Regions from separate parts of the Homo sapiens genome. Here region 1 is linked to region 2. The links come from fine-mapping of genetic effects on gene expression. Tissue or cell type: tibial artery. Region 2 holds a variant in brackets; the other region holds the start of a gene. All regions are shown on one strand. Distances are between the middles of the regions.

Region 1 (5,035 bases), 50 kb after region 2:
CCAGCTTGGCCTTCTCCGTGCCGTTGGCGTGGAAGGGCGGGAAGTCCGTCACGTTGGGGCCACATAGCTTGTCCAGGTTGTTGGGGAACGGCTCCCCCTGGGCTGTGTACTGAGGGGCAGAAGGGAGGTGACGTGGGAGTCAGGGGTCAGTGTCCCAGCCCTGCCGCCAACCCTTTGGGCAAGCTCTTGCGTCTGTTTCCCCATCTAGCGCATGAGGACCCAACTCCTTGCCCTGTAAGCATCTGGAATTGTCATGAGAGCCAAAACTAATTGTAATGTGAGTGCCCTTGCTAAAGATCAAAGACTGAGCCATGCACGCAGTCATCATTATCATCATCATCATCATCACCACCCTAAGGGGACAGAAGGGAAAACTCGGTGTCTAGCCCTAGCTGGGGCACCACACACAAGTACTTCCATCCCTGCACTCACAATGTTCCGGGACGCCCCTCCATGCCCAGCACCCACAGCCCACTGCCTCTCAACCGCATCTCCCTGGTGCCTCACGCCCATTTCCCCTCCATCCCTCGCTCCCTGCAGCAGGACAATCACAAGATAAGAAGTGCCAGGTCCCCACCTTTGCACTCAGTTCTCCCCTTGCTAACTGGGCACCCTGGGGAAGCTTCCCTGGGGAAGCTTGGGCAGGAAGTGGCGGGAGTCTGGGGGTGGTTTAATCAAGCCCTCTCCCCATTCTCTCCTTCCAGCCCCAAAAGGTCCCCTCAACCCAGATCAGGACAGCCCCTAATGATATTTACAAGCCCCCTCCCTGCCATCTCCTGTCAGTATCCCAGGGGTAACTTACATAGAGAATAAAGAGGGCATTGGCACTGCCATTGAGCTGTGCCAGTTGGCTCCTGATCTGGTTCATGAGGTTGTTGTGACATGGGTGGCGTATGGCACAGGTGGCGTTGACAGGGGTGATGGGGAGGGGGCTCCCCGCCCCATGTTTCCAGTGCAGAACCAACAGCAGGGGCACAACTCCTGGGGACAGTCAGGAAGAAGCCATGAGTAGAAAGGCAGGAAAGGGTGGCCTGGGGTCATGGCACACCGGATGGGGGTCCAACAATGGCCGCATGGGAGAGGACTCCTGGTTCCCCCTCACCACCTGCAGCTGTCTTCCTGGGGCCTAGTCTTCACTCTGTCACTGCGTGTGTTTCTCTGTCTCCCTTTCTCTACCTTAGTTCTCCCTGCTCTCTTCTGGGATGACGTAAAGATGAGGGCAAGACACAAGCCATTTCCACCCAAAGGGTGCAGGGTCCAGGAGAGACTCCCAGCCATCCCACCCTTTCCCTCAGGAAGGCAAAGGTCCTAAGGCCCCCTGGCCCTCTGGCTGGAAGGCACCAGGCCCCAGGCCCAGCAGGCACCAGGAGAAAGGAGACCCCTCTCTTCCCACCTCCCGTGGTGGCCCAGGTTCCTCAGCAGCGCTTCCCACTCACTGGCCCATTGCAGCCCAAATCTCCGAAGCCAGGCACCCATGGGGGCCACGGGGCATGGGGGAGTGGGGAGGAGTCCTCGGTTGACCCTCATCTCCCTCCCAAACCTGCCACTTGATTCTGGCTCCCTGGGCCAATTGCCCCCAATTCTGCCCCCGCCCCCATCATCCTCTATCTCTTCCTTCCCTAGTGTCCCCTATCTCACTCAAGCTCACCCCATTTCTGCCTGGCTGTCCCCACTCTCCATCCCCAAATCATCATTCAAAACTCTCTGTTCCCCCAGCTCCGGACAGCCCCTGACTCCATGCCTTCTCCCGACTCATCCGCTGTCCCTTGTCCCAGGGGTTCCCCTCCCTCCTAACACACACACACCGGCTCAGGGAGGGAGAGGAAATGGTGCACCAGGAGAGAGAAAAGGCAAAAGGTCATAGGCAGTCGGGTGGGCGGGGAGGAAGGAAAGTGAAAGGTGACAGGAGAGCTGGGAGCTGTCCCGACATGTCCTGGTTTGCCCCTCCCCCAGGGGGGCCTGTTCTCCCGACTCCCCCCAGGCCCCCTTAGACGCTTTTCCAGGGCTCTGCAGAAGGGCACCTGAAGATGGTGGGGGCCGGGGTCAGCGGGCGAGTGAGGCTGGAGACCTCCCCCGGATCCCCCATGCTGGAACAGCGGGGACAGGGGCCTCCTCAAGTTCACTTCTCCTGGGTCCCCTGTTCGTCCCAGCATCCCAAGGCAGTGCTGAGGCCCCGGGGTGGCTGCGGGAGGGGGGCCACACCCCTATATCTCACCTAGCGCAGACCACACGCTTCCAGACACCAGCAGATGGAGGCGGCACCTGCTCCCGTCCCAGGCCGGAGTTTGCAAGCTGCTCGCCGCCCGCGCCCCTCCCTGGGAGCAGCCCGGGACCGCGGTTGGAAAGGAGAAAGCGGAAAGAAAGAAAGAAAAGAAAAAGAGAGAGGGAGAGTGAATCTGGGAGAAAGCGCAGAGGGAAGAGCAGCCAGCGAGTGTCCGGAGCGAGGAGGAGGAGGAGGAGAAGGAGAGGGGGAAGAAGAGGAGGAGGAGGAAGGCTCGGCGCCCCCTCCCTCGCCGCCAACCTGCCGCGGGGCGTGCGGTGCTTGGGACCATGTGCCCGCGCTCGCTCCGGGCCGCCACCCAGCGCCTCCGGTGGCTGCGCGGGCGCCCCAAGTGTTCGTGTGTCTGCGGCGGGTGGGCGTCCGGCTCGCGCTGCCAAGCGCCCCAAGTTGCCGCCGCGCCCCGCAGCGGGGACGCGAAGCCGGCGCGGGGCGGGTGTATTTACCTGCCGCCAAGACCTTCATTATGGGCTGCACTTCAGAGGGCCTTGGAGGAAACCTCAGATGCCGGCAGTTTTCAGAGGTTCATGCTCAAATGGGGAATTTGCCTGATTTATATACTGGAGCCTGTGTTGTAAGACAGAAACAGCTATATTTAGCCGGGATCCCCAGTCCAGGAAGTTGTTTGAGGTGCATCATAGGAAATTATGAATGGAAGAAAGTGAGAGTGAAGGGGGGGGACGAGTGAGGGGGGAGGGTGGGGAGAACAGACTTTTTCCCTCTTCTAAGAATTTGATTGATAAAATTATAATGAAGCCTTCGACAAAACGCCCTGTGGTTTTCCTGCCTGGCTTGTCCCGGGAGTTGTCTGAAGATGGGCATCGCCAGGAGGGGGCCCCTGGCCGAGTCAGCAGGGGTCCCAGCAGTGGGCGCCCCAGACGGCCCTGACTCACCTGGGTTTGGGGAGGTAGCGAGTCTGGACTAGCAGATGGAGACTGGCCCCTGTGCCCCCTGGTTGGGGGGCTTTAGGGGGGCAGTGGGAGGAGGAGGGCTAGGGCTTGGCTGAGAAGGAGGCTCCAGGAGGAGGGGCCGGGGCCGGCGTGGACTTTAGACGGTCATAAAGTGGAACTGAACATGGGCGCTGGAAGCCACCCCAGAGGTAGCCTCCTCCAATCTGCACATTGCCACTGGGCCCCAAGGGGCTCCGAGGGGAACACGTTGCCCAGGGCCCCAGAGGGTCAGGCCTCCAGACACCACCAGTGCACTCGCCCTGCTGACCACTGTACCTGTGAGGCTGGGGAAGGGGCTAGGAAGACATGGGGGTAGGGGTGACTGACTCAGTTCTGTCGGGACACTCTGGGAAGGTGCTTCTGGGAAGGCGGTCCAGCATTTCCATTCTGAAGCAGGACTGAGAGAGGCTTGGCGAAATCGTACCCCAGTTTCCTCCTCCGGGTGCTGATTGATGGTTGGGGAAACTGAGAAGTGGCTGGTCCCTTCCAGACCTGCCTTGGAAGCCCCTTTGAGCCCAGCCTCAGAGAATGATGGAGGTCCCCAAAAAGTGCTTCTAGAGGCTCTAAGGCAGTGTCACATGTTCTGGCGTCTTCTGAGGCCAGGCGATTTGTGAATGAGGAAGGGCAGAAAGGAGCAGTGGGGAGCCGGGCAAAATGAGCACAGGGACACCTCCAAGAAATGCAACAGAAAAGTGAAAATAAATACACCCTATGAGATGCGGGAATGCCGGCCAGACAGCATGGCCACGCGTCTGGGGCCATGCCGTCCCTAAAGCTGCCAGGGGACCCCCAGTACCAGGAGATGATTTAGTCCCCTGTGGCCCCTTCCCAGCCCTTCCGCCTGACCCTGACCTGAGATCAAGGTGTGTGAGTTGGTTTTCCAAGGCCAGGGAGCTCTTGCAGCCTCGCCCGGGCCCCCACCGCCCCCTCGCCCATCCTCCATGCCCCCAGTTCCTGCCTCTTGCCACATCCCAGACCTGCCCAGCCACGGGTTCCTCCTTCATCGTGCCAGGACGAGCCCTGGTGCCTGCTGCCGTTCCCCACCACACACACACCCTGCTTTATCTACGCTCTTGCCCCCCATTCTCTCCCAGCAGGGCCTCGGATGTGAGGTGATAAAACTGCCCATCCCAGCTGGCACTTCCCGAACTGGCTCTCCTTCCTCCTTCCTGCCTCTCACCCCACACCTTGTCTCTTCTTTGAGGGACCATGGAGGGCCCCACTTGGCACTTACTGCTCCTATACACTTGCTCTGGGGTCAGCGTACACTACTAGGAGACTCACCTGCCCTGGCCTGGCTCAGGTAACCCCACATCCCAGGACACCCCAGCTCAACCCTTCTTCTTACACCTCCCCCAGCATCTCCTGCACAAGGACCTGACCACTCAGAGCACGTGAGCTCTGGACCAGTCCCCAGTCCCATCCCACATCACCCAGACCCCTGCCACCTGACTCAGCCTGGCTCTCCTGACATGGACCCCAAATCCATGTGACCAGGGGCTCACTGTGGCCTCCACCCATCAAACCCCCGTCGCCCGGCCTGAGTCTCTCATTAGGCTCAAGAGTTCTGCAGCTGCCCCTACATCTACCATTCTGCCCAGTCTCCCCTGCATCCTTCCAAGCGGACCCCCAGGCCCTTGCATGCCTTCTGGCAAGCCAGACCCCACATCAGCCCTATAATCCACCCCCAATCGCTGTTTAATCTCAGCCCCACCCCACAGGAAACAGGAAGTGAGGACAGGGTCTAGAAGACACTGACACTAAGGCCCCTTAACCCCAGCCCTGACTGGCCCCTCCAGTGCCTCAG
Region 2 (5,254 bases):
GTGTTTGAGCTGAGGCCATATGAAGAGGAAGGACAGTCAGAGAGACAAAACACTCCAAGCAGGACAGTGAGTGCATAGGCCCTGAGTCTGAAAGGAACTTGATGTGTTTTTGGAACTGAAAGACCAATGAGGCTGGTCCCCACTGTGGCTGCCAATGTCCATTCTCCTGTCCTTCCATAGCGATAGGGCTTCTGACACAGGGCTACCTGGCTGTAGTATATTTCCCAGCTTCCCTTGCAGTTGAACATGGCCATGGGACTGAGTTTTCATGAGTGGAATGCTAACAAAAGATCTTCTGTGACAGCTGGGGCCCTTAAGAGGTGGGTGAACCCCCCCTACCCTTCACACTTTCCTTTTCTTGCTGGATGCATCTGAGGCTTGGTAGTAACCCAGCTTATACCAGAACACCACATGGAATAGCAGATCCCCAGTCAGAAGGGGCCTTGGTCACTGAATGACTGCAGAGAATACAGCCCCTTGCCTGCTTGGATCACTCATCTCACTCATCATCACTCAACTCTCAAGATGGTTACTTGAGAGAAAAAAGATTCTATATTCTTTAAGCCACTGAAGTATTGTCATGTCTCTTACCTAACCTAACTATTACAGAAACAAAGGAGATACTAGCGCCACCAACCAGTCCACATTTAGAGCGTTGCATTTAGTCCAAAGGTTCACGTTTTTAAAAGAGACATTGACCATCTGAAGCATGTCTAGGGAAAGGTAACAATAACAACATTTAGGAGTCTGAAAACCAAGTCAATGAAAAATCTGTTAAAGACATTACAGTTGTTTAGTCTGGAAAAGAGATTTCTCCAGGGTGACATGATAACTGTCTTCAAAAATTGAAGAAGAGGAATGAAACTGAATTGGGGTAGCTCAGTGGGACCTATGGCTGGTTGGGATTTGTGATGAAGCAGATTCTCATTCAATATAGGGAAGAAGTATCTAACAATGAGGGGTGATTAGAAAAAGGCCAGATTACTTTGAGTATCAGAGGCTTCTCCCTATCACTGCACCCAGAGAATGGCCACCCACTTATGAGATGTTGCAGGGGTGATCCAATATCATTGTGGCAATGCTAGTGAATTCTAGGATTTCATGTAGAAGAGGTGATATATAATGCAGGTGAAGCCAGGTCACAACGGGGAACTGACTGTCAGTTTGGAGTGTATCCTGGAGGCAAGTAGTATCTTGAAGGTTTCTGAGCAGAGTAGCAACATGATCAAAGCAATCTGCTAGGAACATTGCTTTGGCCAACACAGGGTGGTAAAAGTCCTGATTTTTATAGCCCGTGTTGGTCATTGGGTGCTTATATTCCCTGAACCAGTAGCAATTTAAAGAAAACCAAGAGTGGGCCGGGCACAGTGGCTCACGCCTGTAATCCCAGCACTTTGGGAGGCCGAGGCGGGTGGATTATGAGGTCAGGAGATCGAGACCATCCTGGCTAACACAGCGAAACCCCATCACTACTAAAAATACAAAAAAATTAGCCGGGCATGGTGGCACGTGCCTGTAGTCCCAGCTACTCAGGAGGCTGAGGCAAGAGAATTGCTTGAACCCGGAAGGCAAAGGTTGCAGTGAGCTGAGATTGCGCCATTGCACTCCAGCCTGGGTGACAGAGCGAGACTCCGTCTCAAAAAAAAAAAAAAAAAAGGAAAACCAAGAGTAAACAACATTGATTTTCTTTACTTTATTTTTGAGATAATCCAAAAAAATAGTTATGAGCTAGCATTTTTTAACAATTTATCTTCCAAGATGAATGATCCTTTCATTTCAAGGAGCTCAAAGTACTTGACATCCCAGTCTCATTCAGGCTTGTCTCATATCTGAACCGCTATGTCAGGGGCAAGACTGTCAAACCTCCTCTCTCAGATAAGAAGGATTCACAAAGAGGGGAAGTGAGTTGTTCAAGGTCACAGTGAGTCAATGGCAGGGCAGGCTCTTTGACTGAGGTCTCCCAACCCTCAGGCCTGCACACTGCCTTGTGCCCATGCAAAGGATACCTCAACTAGGAATGTCCCCCACATACCAGAAAAACCAACCTGAATGAACATCCTTTCTGAAGATAGAAATTACCTGAGATATTTAAGGTTCAACCAATCTCATTTTGTAGATGAGGAAACTGAGGCTTAGTGAACTCAGGCCTGGGATTCCTTGTACTACATCTTACCATCCTATCTACCCATAAAATGGTAGGCCCAGAAACAACCTACATGATTACCTGGAACCAACTAGGCTATCATCATCAGCTCCACTGTCTGGAAATATAAAGGCTCACATTGGCTTTGGCCACCAAAGAGAGGAAACATTCTGCAATCCTTAAAAACTCATGGCCGAAGGGGGTGGGGAGAACTGTTTGAGCCTTGTACTTACAAAGTCAAAAGGGAAAACATGTGTTTCACATTTGTCTTGGGATGGGAAAGAAAAACTTTTCCTTTCACTTAATCTTGGTTTAAACAAACAGAGAGACTGCCCTTTCTGTAAACTCACCGAATGTCAAATATTGTTCACTCGCATGGCATTGGCTTACTAAGCCACTACAGAGCCACTTCCCTCACGTAATCCCCTCAATCCAAAGGCACTTCAACTTGAAGAGGATCAACTGAAATAATACACATTTCCTCTGATGATTGGACAAGAGGCAGCCGATGGAATCAGGTTTCCAAACCTATAACCCCTGGTTTCAGCCGGAGACTTGAGGCAATACAGCTTCAGTCATGACTCAGGATTTTGCGAGTGAAAGCAAGCACGTCAAGTGATGTAAGAAAATTCCCCCATTCCTCCAACCCACTGGCTTCCTCCTCCCTGGAGAATTCAGTCAGACAGCATTGTGTTGGGGGTGGGGGAGAAACAGAGGTATCCTGTCACTGGGTGCTGAGCTGCCGGCACGCCTCCTATCACCATTGCCATGGCCAGCGTCATCACCATCGCGGTGGCCAG[C/G]GTCAGCGTTTGACAAAGGAAGTACTCAGTTACAATTACCTTCCTGTTGGCCAGCAGCTCAGATAATTGCTTTGCAATGTGTGTGAGAACCTCATAAATTAAACCAAGAAACAGAGGGGCCAGGTCTGGGCTGAAGGGAAGTGTCAAGTGGAGGAGGCAGTGATGCAAGGCTACCTTTGAAGTCACTTTGTTTGTGAAAAGTCTGCTGTGCTCTCTTAAGGAAACTCCACTGGAATGAGGTTTCTGTGCATGTGGGGTTTAGGGCTATTGTTTTTGGCTCTGACTTTCACCTCAAGCCCTAGCTAGGACATGTATAAATCCCATAACAACAGCCTGACATGAAATTGCTCACCCTCTCATTGCATCAGGGGACTTTTACTCAGGCGGATTTTGAATGCCTCATTGTTTAATAGGACAGGAAGTTTACTCTCAATGTAAATGAGGAATCCTTTTTCTCCCCGCCTTACCTCCTTGGAAGATTCTTACAGAGGCCTGACTTGTTGGCCCTAGTCTAGCTTCTGGTCTAGCTCCTTCCATAAAAGCAGCTGCAGCCCAGCAGCAGCCTCCCAGTTTCTTTATTAGGGTAAGGCTTTTCTTAGGACCAAAGTTTTTGGGCAGGCTTTTCCCTAGAGGGAGTGCTGGGTGATGGGTTAAGTAAGGGCCACCCAGGGACAGGGTGGGGTTGGATGTGAAAAGGGTTGGATTTTCTCTTTTCAGTTTCTTCATTCTGAACTGGACCTAGGTTTTTTTTTTAATCACAGAGAGGGAAGCCCCATCTCTAAATCTTATGATGCTTTTCTTCCTTGGGATATATCACAAGGAAAAAGTGGGTGACTAGCCCACATTTGTGGCATAAGGATAGGACTCTGAAGTCCAAATGTATCAGATTAACCAGCATGAGCAAGAGGATGCCTAATTCAGAACCATGACCCTACCCTCTGTTAGAGCAAATCTCTGAGGATAGAAACTTCTAGAAAAATCCTTGTGGGCTCCCCCACATCTCACACCACACTCTGTAGGCAAACCCTTTAAAAAAGGCACAAGTATAACCCTCTCAATCTTCTTCTGATGCCCTCAGCAACAAGATTGGCTGAGAGATCTTCAAAGGGAGAATAATCTCAGATACAATTACTTTAGTCAAAGGAAACCAGTTATGGACAACAACTAGGGAAATGACAGAGACACCAACTCAGTAAGATGAGGAAGCCCTAGTTTATTTGGTTTGTATATCCAGAATCTTTTTTCCTACACATCTGAAAAGATACCAATAATGAGTTAAAAAAAAAAAATCAAGTCAACCACTGCACATGTAGACCTAGAGATTAGTCTAAGGTTGAATTCCCATCACCATTGCCTTCCACACACAGCTTCATCAACAATGATGAAGAGTCAAGGATGGGCTGGGCAGGTGGCTCAGGTCTGTAATCCCATAACTTTGGGAGGCCAAGGTGGGTGGATCACTTGAGGTCAGGAGTTCAAGACCAGCCTAGGCAACATGGTAAAATCTGTCTCTACTAAAAATATATTAAAAAAAAAATTTAGCTGGGCATGTGGTGCACACTGGTAATCCCAGCTACTCCAGAAGCTGAGGCAGGAGAATCACTTGAACCCGGGAGGCGAAGGTTGCAGTGAGCCGAGATCGAGCCACTGCACCCCAGCCCGGGCAACACTTGCTCTGTCTCAAAAAAATAGGAAGAGTCAAGGATGATCCCTGACAGTAAATATGCTAAAGATTTATTTGTTTAAAATTGCAACATTAACCAGAGTTTTACACACTTGTATATGTGTATACGCATGTAAGTGTGTGATTGTGATTTTATTTGCACCAGGTCAGGTATAACTAAGCAAGAAGTAGCAGCCTTGCTTGTGGCCGGAGCTCTGTTCTCAGAGCTGCTTTCACATTACAGTCACCTGTAGAGATTCATCCACAACACACAGATACCTGAATGCCTGAGTGTCTCCCCCAGAGGTTCGGATTTAACTGGGCTGGCCTGGGATCTGAGCACAGATCTTTTTTTTTTTTAAAGCTCTCCAGCTGATTATAATGTGTGTCCAGGTCACCATCCACTGAACTAGGCCAGCCCCTAATGCAGTCTTCTCCCTCCACTGCTCTGTAAAATTGAGCCACATTTGCCAGCTCCTTGCACAATATCCTCTCACTTGGGCACTGGTGATTCTCTCATCTCCCTGGTCCTCATCCTCGCTTCACCCCACACTTCAGCATCTGGGATCTGGCTTCCCTGTGACTATACCATGGCAAAAAAGTTCTTCCTAAAATGGCCTCAGGTATAATTCACATTTTAAATTACTT

Alleles and levels. Alleles are on the strand shown, and positions count from the first base shown. SD is a standard deviation of normalised expression in the study named.
For the expression in tibial artery of the gene that starts at base 2,807 in region 1, G is the low allele of the variant in region 2 and C is the other (small effect, 0.18 SD a copy in GTEx).

What was found. PIP is the estimated chance that this variant, and not a neighbour inherited with it, causes the effect.
Region 1: LIF starts here. The variant in region 2 is fine-mapped to the expression of LIF in tibial artery (GTEx, PIP 0.97). The same link has a PIP of 0.9 or more in monocytes.

The regions. Positions count from the first base shown.
Region 1 is chr22:30,243,953-30,248,987 of GRCh38, forward strand. LIF (LIF interleukin 6 family cytokine) reads right to left here and starts at 2,807. Exons shown (of 3, transcript NM_002309.5): 1 at 2,725-2,807; 2 at 803-981; 3 at 1-109. The coding sequence starts at 2,743. LIF-AS2 (LIF antisense RNA 2) reads left to right here and starts at 2,258. Exons shown (of 1, transcript NR_148946.1): 1 at 2,258-3,041. RefSeq lists an enhancer at 757-1,257.
Region 2 is chr22:30,193,555-30,198,808 of GRCh38, forward strand. The region is part of intron 1 of LOC105372988 (a long non-coding RNA gene); the gene reads right to left. It also overlaps a transcript of HORMAD2 not described here. Among named protein-coding and RNA genes, the nearest start is that of LIF-AS1, 43 kb to the right of the region's middle. RefSeq lists an enhancer at 2,812-2,931. The variant C/G (reference allele first, on the strand shown) is at 2,944.